Linked DNA regions of Homo sapiens. The protein of the gene in region 2 purifies or fractionates together with the protein of the main gene of each other region. This does not show direct contact. Each region holds a gene or a part of one and is shown on either strand. Other genes may lie near its edges.

Region 1 (3,500 bases), on a different chromosome or scaffold from region 2:
GGAAAGGTAGTCTAGCTATGTGTCCAAAGAATGGAGGAATGCATTTTAATGGACAGCTAGTGGGTCCACTAGTTTGTAGATGAGGACAACAGTCTCAACAGGATTAACTTGCTAAAATTAATTGGTCACAACCAAGTGACAAAGCCAGGCCTCCACCCTAACCAGAGCCACCATCGTCTCACCTGGACTGCAGTGGTGGCCTTCTCACTGGTCTGCTTGCCACCCTGCACACAGAGGGATCCTTTCAACACTTACTCCAATCACACTCTGACAGTGATAGAAATAAACCTGTCAGTTCCTGCATGTTCTTCTAGCCCTCGGCCATGGGCTCATGGGTTCAGTGAGAGCAACTGAGTTGGGGAATGGCACAGCCTGCACCCGAGCCCAGATCTGACTCCACATTTTGGTCCCCCAAGCAAGAAACGACAAACGCCAGCTTCCAGGCCACTTTTATTTAAACAGAAGCAGCGGCCCCACAGCCATGGGGACATGTCTTCCAGACAGTAGACACAGTGCCTGTGGCTGTAAGAGCCTGACAGGGAAGATTCATGCCTTTCTCCTTGGCCCCCATGACCAAAGAAGAAAATAAAAATCACACACCATACACTGCCACACCCATCTCCACCCCTCCCTTTCAGTAATATCCAAGTATTCATCCTTCTGGCCAAAGAAACTGGCTACAATTCTGATTCTAAAGAAAACCTTCATGCAGCCAAGAAACTCAGGGCTCTGGAGGGGAGAGCCTTACTCTGATACTTTCCACATGCACTGCCCACTGGCATCAAGTTTAACTCCATCCAAAACCATCACATGGATGGCCAGGGACAGGACTGGCTACAAAAAAAAGCCATGAACTCAGCTCACCATGCTAAGAAGACTGCCTCTTTCCAGGCAAGATTTTACTGGAGCAACATAACCGGAGGGTGTGATTCCAAAATACCTTCCTTTCCAAGCCCCGGGTTGTGGATAAGGTCTGGATTTTGGTTATATGACTAAGGGCGACAGAGGCTGCTGGCATCTCTGGCCACCGTCCCAGTGGCTTAGGGTTGGAGGCTTCACTGGCAAAACAATGGCACTGTTTAACTAGCTCGTGTTAACCATTCATCTACAGCAAGTAGAATCATCAGTTTTGCACTGAGCAAGGAAGCACATGGGTCTCCTATGAGAGCTAATGCCAGAATTCACATGCTTTGTAAAATATAGGATGAGGTTTATTTCTTTCTTCTGCCCCCTCCAGAGGCCAAATGGGTAGGGTGGTTCCTTTGCCTTCTGAGTGCCTGGATGCCCCCAGCCCTCACAAGACCCTGCTAAGACACTGGCAGTGTGCCAAGCCTTGGGTGGGATGGGTGAACACCCTTCAATGACTCTGAGAGGATTCTGGCACCTGGAATGACAAGACAGATGCTTCCCTGCAAGCCAGGTATGAGCCTTTCTGGAAATGAGATGGGAGCTGACCTTGGGGTTGAAGGAAGGATCTTGAATGACAGATAATCCCCAAGTGTCCACTGGATCATTTTTCCTCTGACTTTCCACACAAATGAGGCTTTCCGTGGGTTTTGCAACCACAGTGTCTAAGACAATCAGAAGGGTTCCAGGGAGGTCTTGTCTGTAGCGATGTGACAGATGAGGAAACTGCAGCTCAGAGGACAATGACTTGCCCACGTTGCACAGCTCGCTGACAGTAGAGAGGGGCTGAAACCTAGGTCTCCTGACTCACACGCCACAACCATGACTGGCTCAGCTCCCTTAATTCCAGCTTCCCTTACATGACGCAATTCCTTCTCAGATTCGGGTTTTCAGCTGAGGCTGGGCAGTTCTTAAGATAGAGTTGCATAAACAACCAAGCTTTGCGTTATAACAAGCCAGGGAAGGACCTAGGGAGGTTCCCTTCCCTCTGGAACGGAAATGGAACTTTCTCTGAGCTTAGGATTTGTAAGGCACTGAAATTAACTACAGCTGGGGTGGGGAGTGGTGGAAGAAAGAAAAAGAGGGATGAGTGGTTGGAGAAATCAAGTCGATGCTCTTTTCTTCCAGCCCCACGGTGAGAATCCTACAGAAACATGAGGGTGGACTCCACTTTCCCACCTGATGCTGTCCACTCCCCAGCCCCTGCTGCAGAGCAGCGCGGACCCACTCCCACCAAGACAAAGTGGGTTTTGGGAAAGATGAGGCCTGCAGGGTTGGTGAGCCAAGAAGAATGAGCCCAGGTCCCCTGGATCCAATTCAGAGCGGAGACCACTCTCTCCACCTAGGTGTCCCAGGCTGAGGCTGGGACAAGATTCAACCCTGGAATGCCTTCTCCAGGAACACAGGGCACTCCGAGTGGACTCAGTGGTGGCTGGGGTGGGCCTGCAGGCCCAGGCATGAAGGAGGAAGGGGCAGGACGGCACCAAGGATGGCAGGGAGAACTTTGGCCTCGGACCTGGCTTTGGCACAGCGCATCTGGGGCCTCCCCACTCCGTGGCTGCCCTCCTGAGATCCCAGGGTGGGGAAGAGCTGTCCTTCTCCTGTGAGGACCTCGTCTGGCTGATGGAGGCGATGGCAGGGCAACTCCAGCGTATCCCCTTCATCATTCCAGCCATGGCTGTGCACAGGTGACCTAATGTGGAGCCTTTTCAGGCTCCACTGCAGATGTGACGCTGAACGGGAAGCAACAAGAGCTACCACTTACCCAGCACCTTCAATGTGACCAGTGCTCAACTCAGATGACAACAACCTGCAAGTAGGTATTACTATCCCTTTCAACTAATGAAGAGACCCGGGCTCAGAGGGGTTAAGGGACTCACCCAGAGTCACACAGCTAATGAGTTCTAAACGGGGAACTGGACTCAGGCTTGTCTGACTCCAAATCCCACATTCTTTCCATTCCACTGGGCTGCCCCCTGGAAGCCAGGAGGAAGGTGGTGTTGGGCTGTCAGGGTGGGAGTTCTGGAGGGGTTTCTCTTTGAAAGTGTGGATCTAGGAAAGCAGCCAAGCTTGAGTGAAGGGAAGATGCCTGACCACTCACACGTGTCTGTCTCTCCAGGCGGGCTCCAGCTCAGTGCCTGGCGGCCTTGCAGATCTTGTCGTACACCTCGGGGAAGGCGTCCTGGCAACCCAGCTTCTCTCGCAGCTTGTGGTACAAGGAGCCATCAAACATCTCCCAGAACTCCTCCCGGTTCATGTAGCAGTCGGCATACAGCATCTGGAAGCTGCAGAGGCAGAGAAGTGGGTGAGGACGCCAGGAGGCACACGGAACGCGAGGCGTGAGAGAAACCCAACTGCTCATTCTGCAGCCCAGAAAAGGCTTTTGGAGGATTTCTCTTGTTTAACCCCGTTAACCTGGTGAAGAAGATGGTGCAGGTATTCTTATCCCCCTTTTGCAGGTAGGGAATTGGGGCTTGGGGGTTAGGTAGCTTAGCAGTGGAGGTAGAGTCAGGAGTAGAGCTCAGACTGCTGGGCTTCTGCCCCTCTGCTTGGCCAGAGGCACAGCTGCCTTCCCTAATGGAGCAGTGGGGTTG
Region 2 (4,310 bases):
TAAATCCTATTAAATGAAGTGTCGATTCCTGACAAATACATTAAAAGTGTTTTATTCCTAGAAGAGTTGGGAAAAGAAATTATTTTCAGCAAGAGTAGGATGTTTGTTAAACTGATTCCTTGGCAAAAAAGAGAAAAAAAGCTTTTGAATTGTGCAAAAAATTGCCCAGTATTATGCTGTCGCCCCAGTTGTCAAACTGCTGTGCAGATGGCTCCAGCCCAGTCAACTTCACCTTCTTTTTAATTTAGAAGATAACAAAATTGTAATCACTTATCCTTTCCAGAGCCAAGGGGGAAAAGGAAGGTATAATCTACAATAAAAAGCGAGCGTTCTGTGTACTGAGGCCACTTGGTGATAAAGAGATGGAGCGCTCCCCTCACAGACTTCAATTAAGAACCTCCCTTTGGACAGGGAAGAAAGGTGTCAAAGAGGAAAAGAAAATTAAATTTGCTTCCTTCCAGGAGTTTTTCCTCATTAGTGCTTGCTTGTCGGTGTTATTATTTTAATCTTACCTTCTATGTGGTGACCAGCTCCTCCGAGCGATGCCCAGGTCGGGCACGGCCCGGGCAGGGCAGGTCTGCAGCGATGCCGTGGCAGAGGTGGGCATACTCCATTTGTTTTGGCAGCTGCAGCCATTGATTCTGCATATTTTTCCTGACAACAGCCCCGGCAGGAGTTCAGTTAGGAATTTAAAGTGCAGTTCATGGTTCTGTGCCACCGTGGCTTTTATTATTATAATATTAAATTAGAAGTTGTCCTAGTGCCTGGTGTTTGCTCAGAGTTTCCAGAAGAGAGGGAAGGGCAAGGTTTAAATGGCATGCAGGACAACTGGAATGCCCCCATCTCTCTCGCTGACACGGATCCAGTCATACCTGGGGCTGGACGGGATTTGGAGGCCCTGGTCATTTGCAGAGTGAATGGTGAAGGGCGCGGAAAAGGTTTGCTTGGAGGAAAGACCGGTTGCAGAGGCGAGGCGGAGGGAGGAGGGGCGGAGGCAGCAGGTCTTTGTTTGTGGTAGGTCTCTGGCTTCCATCAGGGAGGAGGAAAGAGGCTGTGCCCTTCCTGGCTCTTGGCTGCACCACTGAGGACGCTCCGAGGGACAGCGTGCTCACCCATCCTTTGCACAGTGCTGGCCCCAAGCCCCACGGCCTTCCAGCTAGGATTTTCTGCTGGGCTCATGCAGAGGCAGGGGACAGGTGCATGGAAGAGCCGCCCCACCCGACACACCATTGTTTGAAAATCACTGTTCTCTTTACTCACTTAAAAAAGTGTACAGGGAACACCTGTTCCTGGCATAATGCTCCAACCTCGCGGAAGGGGCCAGGTGCCCTTCATCTGGCTCTGGCTGCTTCCGACCTGGGCCCACGTCATCGTTCACGTCCTCTGTGACCACCACTGGTCACGGTGCTCCCTGGCCCAGCCTCCAACCCACCCAGCACCCTGGCATCTCCCAGGCCAGTCTGCTGCACCCAGCGAGCTTCCAGTCAGAAGCCAGGCTGAACGGCCCTCCTGCCCCATCAGCTTCGTGTCTTCTTTTTTTTAAAGAACTGAAATAGTCCCCAAGAGGCCTCATGGCCTGAAGACTCACAATCATCCACCTGTAATTTATGATAAATGTCTGGGAGCATTTACCATTTGCGTCCGTGAGTATTTATAGCCCTGAATGGGCGGGGGGGAGGGGGGGTGGAGGAGGCCCTGCAGCCAGGAGCTACACACCTGTCCCCACTAGTGTCCCCTGGTTGACAGAGCCCCCTCAGCCTCCCCAAGGCTGTCACTGCGGCTGTGACAGCTGAGGAGTGCCGCCTTTGAAAGCCAGTGGACAGTCGCTCCACTAGGGGGAGAGGCCCTGGCCCTGGCGCAGAGGAGGCGTTGCGAGGCGGGACGGGGGCTGGAGGGGCTGAGCAGCCTTCAGGGCAGGGACTGGGCCCTGGGTCACTGGAGACGTTGATATTAGTCCGTCTGCTGCCAAATTGCTCCCCACCACATGAGCCCCAGGGGTTTATGTCCCAGGAAGGCGAGGGTGCCCATCTGAGCGGAATTGGGAGGGGACGGCACCAGCTCATCTCCCTCAGGGCCTTTGCCTCCTGGTGCTGCCCTGGTGGCTGCTCCTGCACCACAGCCCCTGATGGCTGCTGCTAGTCCTGAGTTGCTGGGTTTACCCCCAGCCCACACTTCCCACCTGGGCCTGAGGGTGCGGCCAGTGCCCTAGTCCTAGCCACTACAGGAGTCATTCTGAGACCTGCTGGAGGCCATGGGGTCTTCCCAGGCCCCTCAATCAGCTGCTTCCAGGGTCAGCAGGGCAGGGTGCTGCCAGTAAGGTCCTCAGGGAGCACAGCCCGGCCGCCCAGGCTGGGGGATACTGGGGCAGAGCTTCCAGGTCTGTGGGGCCTGATCTCTCCCCAAGGCTCTCCAGGCCTTGGTGCGCCCTCCACAGTGACCTTCAGAGAGGCTGCACCCCCTCAGAAGAACAGTGAGAAATCTCTCCATCACACGCTCCCTGGTCCTTATGTCCCTGAGGCCACCCTTCCCCACCCCCCAGTGCCTGGAGAAGCGTGAGACTCTGGAGGGGCGCCAGGAGGCCAGGGGTCCTCAGGGCTAGGCCTGGAGCTCGGCCCAAGAGCTGCTTTTGCGAAGCCTGTCTTGAATCCGGATTCACCAGAGAACAAGAGCCTCCCAGCCTTTGGCGTTTCTGGGCCTGTAAAGATGTGTGTACCTCCCAGGCCACTCTGATGCAAGGGCAGGGACCATGCCAGGCCTGGGTTGGGAATGGCTCTGTGACTCCAGAAGCTCCGTCTAAAACTCCAAAGATGCCCAAAAGGCTGTGCTGCTATGTGGAATGTGTATTATTTGTGAGCACGATGCGGCTTCTTCCTCATTTTGCAGAGCAACCTAAGCGGGCAGATGTACAAACCGTGTGTTCGAAACCCCTGAGTCCATGTGTGTGAAAATGCAGGTTTTCTCTTAGAAATAAAGTGGTGACTTGTGCTGTATTCGAGTCGTCACTCTCTGCAGCAACCCCTCTCGATGCCCAGGGACAAGCAGGGGGCCCAGGCCAGGGTCAGCCCCTCTGCCCCAGTGCCCTCATATGGACACTGCCATCCGGCCCTCTCTGCAGGCCCAGGCACTCAGGGGTGTCCACCCAGGCCCCCGCTCGCTTCCTCTGCCTTGTGGAGGGAGGCAGACAGCCCTGGAGCAAAGCAGGCACAGAGAGGCCGGCTTGCTCCAGGGCGGCGGCGTGGGCAGATCCAGCGGATTTGGGCCAGCACTGTCACCGGCTCTGAGGGCCTTCCCTCAGGGTGGAGGGGCTGTCCAGCTCCCTCCCACCTCCTGTGGCACTCTCTCCACCCCACCCCATGGCCTATTCGATGCCATTTTTGGGGGGTTAGGAAACACCACCTTGAACCCAGTCCCCTTCCCTTGTCATTTCTCCTCCTCTGAGCTTAGCCCCAGCTGCTTTCTTCCTCATGTCTTGCTTCTTCTACCTGATGAGCCCGTGAGTATTTGGTAGCAACTTCCCCCATTTATCTTGCTTCCCAGGGGAGATGCGGGGAAGGGAACCAGTGAGCCAGGAGGCGGCCCCTTGCAGGCGCTGCCGCTCTCCCTGGCCCCAATCTCGAGTCCTGGGTGTGTGAACTCAGTGTTGCAGGCCCTGCCGTCTGGGATCCAGTGCCCTCTCCTGTGACCCCACAACTGGGCCTGAGTCTCCAGCAACTCCGCTGGTGCATGTGGGGCCCAAGGCTCCATGCGCTGAACATGAGGGACCCCGGCCACCTGGAGCCTTGGCCTCCTCCTGAGCTGTTGTCACGTGGAAACCAGGCAGGGGTCTGCTCCTCTCAGTGGAATTTTTTCTTGGAACCTGCACTAGGGACTCTCCATGTTTTTGGTTAACTTCCACCTGGTGGCTTTGGCCGAGCACTGGGGCTCCAAGTCAGGTGCTCCATTTCCAAACCATGCAGGCATCCTTTCGGGAGCACACCCACCTAGCTTCGATCTTCCAGAACTGACAACTTGTTGCCAATAATTGGCTGACGTGAGTGTTGAACAAGACAAAACCCAATCCAGAGAGCACTGGGCTTTGTCCTGCCACCGCCCCGCCCAGGCCACTGTACCCCCCCACCACCCCCCCATGCCGCCTGCCTCCCAAGTGCTGGGGATGGAGCAGGGAGGCTGCCCCTCTTGCCCTCCCTCACCTTCCAGGGAGCAGACACCAGCGTCAGTGTGAATGTGGCCCAGCCCATGTGCAGAGGGAGAGGATGCCGGGCTGGGCGTGCATGTTGAAGTCCGTGGCCCAGAGAGGCTTCCAGAGAAGG
Region 3 (3,500 bases), on a different chromosome or scaffold from region 2:
CTGGAGTGCCGTGGTGCAATCTCGGCTCACCGCAACCTCCGCCTCCCAGGTTCAAGTGATTCTCCTGCCTCAGCCTCCAGAGTAGCTGGGATTACAGGCGCACTCCACCACGCCCAGCTAATTTTTGTATTTTTAGTAGAGATGGGGTTTCGCCATGTTGCCCAGGCTGGTCTCGAACTCCTGACCTCAGGTGATTCACCCGCCTCAGCCTCCCAAAGTGCTGGGATTACAGGCATGAGCCACCGCGCCTGGCTCTCTAAGTTTAAGTATTAAAGAGTGAAAGCTGTACTCTGAAACCTACAGACTGGGCTCATGGTCACAGAGAAGGGAGAGCCCACCTGGGGTCTGGGCGGCTGTGGAGGAGCAGGACAGCATGGCTGAGGCCCCTACCCAAGGGCTCAGGGCTGTGCTTACACTGGGCCCATCCATGCCCCGTGTCTGGGACAGGCCAGGGGCACTGGACCCTGATCCTGGCCTCTGGGAACCCTCCACCACTCCCAGATGGGAAAGCACCCACTGAAGCACTGGCTCCGGGGTTGCCCTTCAGATTGGAGCAGGAGGAACAGCCTGCAAGGATGTGATACTCACGTCTCTACGTTCCAGCTTTGGCTCTGCGTGTTGAAATAGCCCCAGCTGGCAGCATTCTGGTCGGACATCAGAGGTCTTGGCAAGCCACACAGCATGGCAACCACATAGTCGTGGATGGTACCGGCTGCGTCGTAGGACTTCAGGAACTCTGGGCTGTTTTTCATACCAAAAACAACCAACACGGTATAACATGAACTCGGAAGCATGTGCCGCACCTAGCTGCAGGCAGCAGGGACCAGCTGTGCCATGGCCAGGTGGCAGCCACAACCGCATATACTATGGCTCAAGTCCAGCTGGGTCCCTGGGATTAGGACCTCCCAGCTGCCCCAAGCAAAGCCAGCCTAAGTCAGCCCCAGGGGAAGGGCCTGAGAGGAGGAAGTGTCAAGCCTGGAAAAGCAGACGTCAGCCTCCTCAGCAGCCTCGCAGGCCTGAACACACTGCGAACTCTCCCCGTGACCCTCGGCAAGTCACTTGCCCTCTCTGTTCCCTCCTTTCCCTATGTGGGTGGGAACTGGATAACCAATAGAGAGCCCTCTGCAAAAGGACGTGGTTCTGGACCCAATCGAGGTCCAGGCCATGCTGCATCCTGTCCTGCCAGGACACACTCACTGCGGCACAGCCCAGCAGGCGGGGTGATGCTGACGCAGCCCCGGCCTATTCTCATTCTCCCGGAAACCCAGCACCCGAGTGAAAGTGCAGTTGCCCGTACCGATATTTCAAAAGCCAGAAGATGGTTGCACAGCCGAAGCCCGTGGCCACACTGAGATGAGACTTCGGCTGGGGCAGAGAGGCCAGGAATTCGCTGCTACATCGGCCATCCTGCCACGTGACCAGGTGGCTAACAGCTCGGGGCTCGAACACCGGGGTAATCCCTCCCTCTGTCCATTCACAGCCTGGAACAAAAGAGATGACCAAAAATGAAGAAAAGAGCAAATGACTAGGCATGGCGCGGCCTTGATACTACTCTGCTGGTGAGTGACAAAATATGTGCGAATCGTCCCATGATAAAGCCTGGCACACCTATGGGTCCTGATAGCACTGGCTTTAGTACTTGGCTCTACCACATAATGACTGTGGGACCCTGGGCACGTCACATACTCCCTCCATTTGCCCCACTTCTCTGTTTGTTTTTATTCTTTTTTGAAGTTGATATCATATCTCCCCACATCTCAGAAGATGTTTGGCACAATCTCAAGTCCCCTGGTCTCTGTCCCTCCAACCCTCATCATGACATTATCTAGGCTTACTGCTACTTGATTACCAGTAAATTTTCTCTTTTCCTTAGTTCTTAGCTGATTGCGTTTTATTTTATTTTATTTTATTTTAATTTTTTCAGACAGAGTCTCATTGTGTCCCCCAGGTTGGAATGCAGTGGCATGATCCCGGCTCACTGCAACCTCCATCTCCCAGGTTCAAGCGATTCTCCTGCTTCAGCCTCCCGAGTAGCTGAGACTACAGGCCCACGCCACCACGCCCAGCTAATTTTTTGGACTTTCAGTAGAGACAGGGTTTCATCATGCTGCCCAGGCTGGTCTCGAACTCCTGAGCTCAGGCAATCCACCCACCTCAGCCTCCCAAAGTGCTAGGATTACAGGCATGAGCCACCGCACCTGGCCCTGATTGATTTTTAGACATCCAAATTTACTTTAAAATCATCTGACCGTCAGATTTTTTTTCATTTGTGCCTTGTGACATCCTCTGGATTTTTCTCTGCCCTTATTCAGTGATTTCTCCCAAGGCCAATTTCAGTGTCAGTCTTTCCAGGCAGTGTCTGAAGGCCCAGATGCCACCAAATATTTCTCATGTTCCCATCTTTAAATGCCAGTTTGATTAGTTATAATAGTCTGGTTCTAAGTTCCTTCCCTTCAATGCTTAAAAGCACTTTTTGTGGTCGATTGTTGCAAATTCTTCACTACTCCTCCCATTAAGAGGTGGCATCTGAATCCTCTTTCCTTGAATATAGAATCACCTTGGTGACGTGCTTGACCAGGAGAATGTGGAGGCAGTCACATCTTGGGACTCCCAAGGCTAGGTCATAAGAAGTACTGCAGCTCCCGCCCAAGCCTCTTACACCAGTCTCTCTGGGGGAATCAGCCTTCAGGTAAGAAGTGCGACTACGCCGAGGCCGCCATGCTGAGGAGACCACGGGCAAAGAGCAGCCGGCAGACCGTTTCCAGGTGAGCCCAGCCTCCAGCCTTCCCACCAAGGTACCAGGCATTGAGTAAAGCCACCGTGACCCCCTGGACCAGTCTGTCCACCAGTTGAACACTAACAAGCAACCTCCACCACCACCATGCAGAAGCAGCAGTGGGCTGAGCCCTGCCCAACCCCTGACCCAAAAAATCATGACAGATGATAAATGCTTGTTGCTTTCAGTCACTAGGTTGGAGGTAGTTTGTTGTGCCGCAATAGGTCATCAAAATACTACTCCTGGTCAGGCACGGTGGCTCACGCCTATAATCCCAGCACTTCGGGAGGCCAAGGTGGGCGGATCACCTGAGGTGAGGAGTTCGAGACCAGCCTGGACAACATGGCGAAACCCCATCTCTACAAAAAATACAAAAATTAGCCAGGTGTGGTAGCGGGTGCCTGTAATCCCAGCTACTCCGGAGGCTGAGGCAGGAGAATCGCTTGAACCCAGTAGGCGGAGGTTGCAGTGAGCTGAGATCGCACCACTGCACTCCAGCCTGGGCAACAGAGTGAGGCTCCATCTCAGAAAAACAAAACAAACAAAAAAATGCTACTCCATTGTCTTTTCACACAGAATGCTGCTGTTGAAAAAAATCTAATGTCAATCTGATCCTTATTCTTTCATATGGGATCTGATCTTTTGCTCTGTAAGCTTTTGGAATTCTGTCTTTGAAATCCTTAAAAGTTCACTAGAATATATCTAGCTGGGGGTTGTCTTTATC

What was found. Proteins that work in one complex are often made in the same cells at the same time.
Region 1: the proteins of BTBD9 (region 2) and DHCR24 purify together in Homo sapiens (co-immunoprecipitation; one large-scale study listed by IntAct). This does not show direct contact.
Region 3: the proteins of BTBD9 (region 2) and SHPK purify together in Homo sapiens (affinity purification with mass spectrometry; one large-scale study listed by BioGRID and IntAct). This does not show direct contact.

The regions. Positions count from the first base shown.
Region 1 is NC_000001.11:54,849,196-54,852,695, forward strand, and holds the end of DHCR24 (delta(24)-sterol reductase precursor), read right to left. Parts: intron 3,192-3,500; coding exon 3,038-3,191; 3' UTR 432-3,037; downstream 1-431. UniProt on the Homo sapiens protein: Catalyzes the reduction of the delta-24 double bond of sterol intermediates during cholesterol biosynthesis.
Region 2 is NC_000006.12:38,167,131-38,171,440, reverse strand, and holds the end of BTBD9 (BTB/POZ domain-containing protein 9), read left to right. Parts: 3' UTR 1-2,990; downstream 2,991-4,310.
Region 3 is NC_000017.11:3,622,751-3,626,250, forward strand, and holds part of SHPK (sedoheptulokinase), read right to left. Parts: intron 1,482-3,500; coding exon 1,298-1,481; intron 742-1,297; coding exon 589-741; intron 1-588. UniProt on the Homo sapiens protein: Acts as a modulator of macrophage activation through control of glucose metabolism.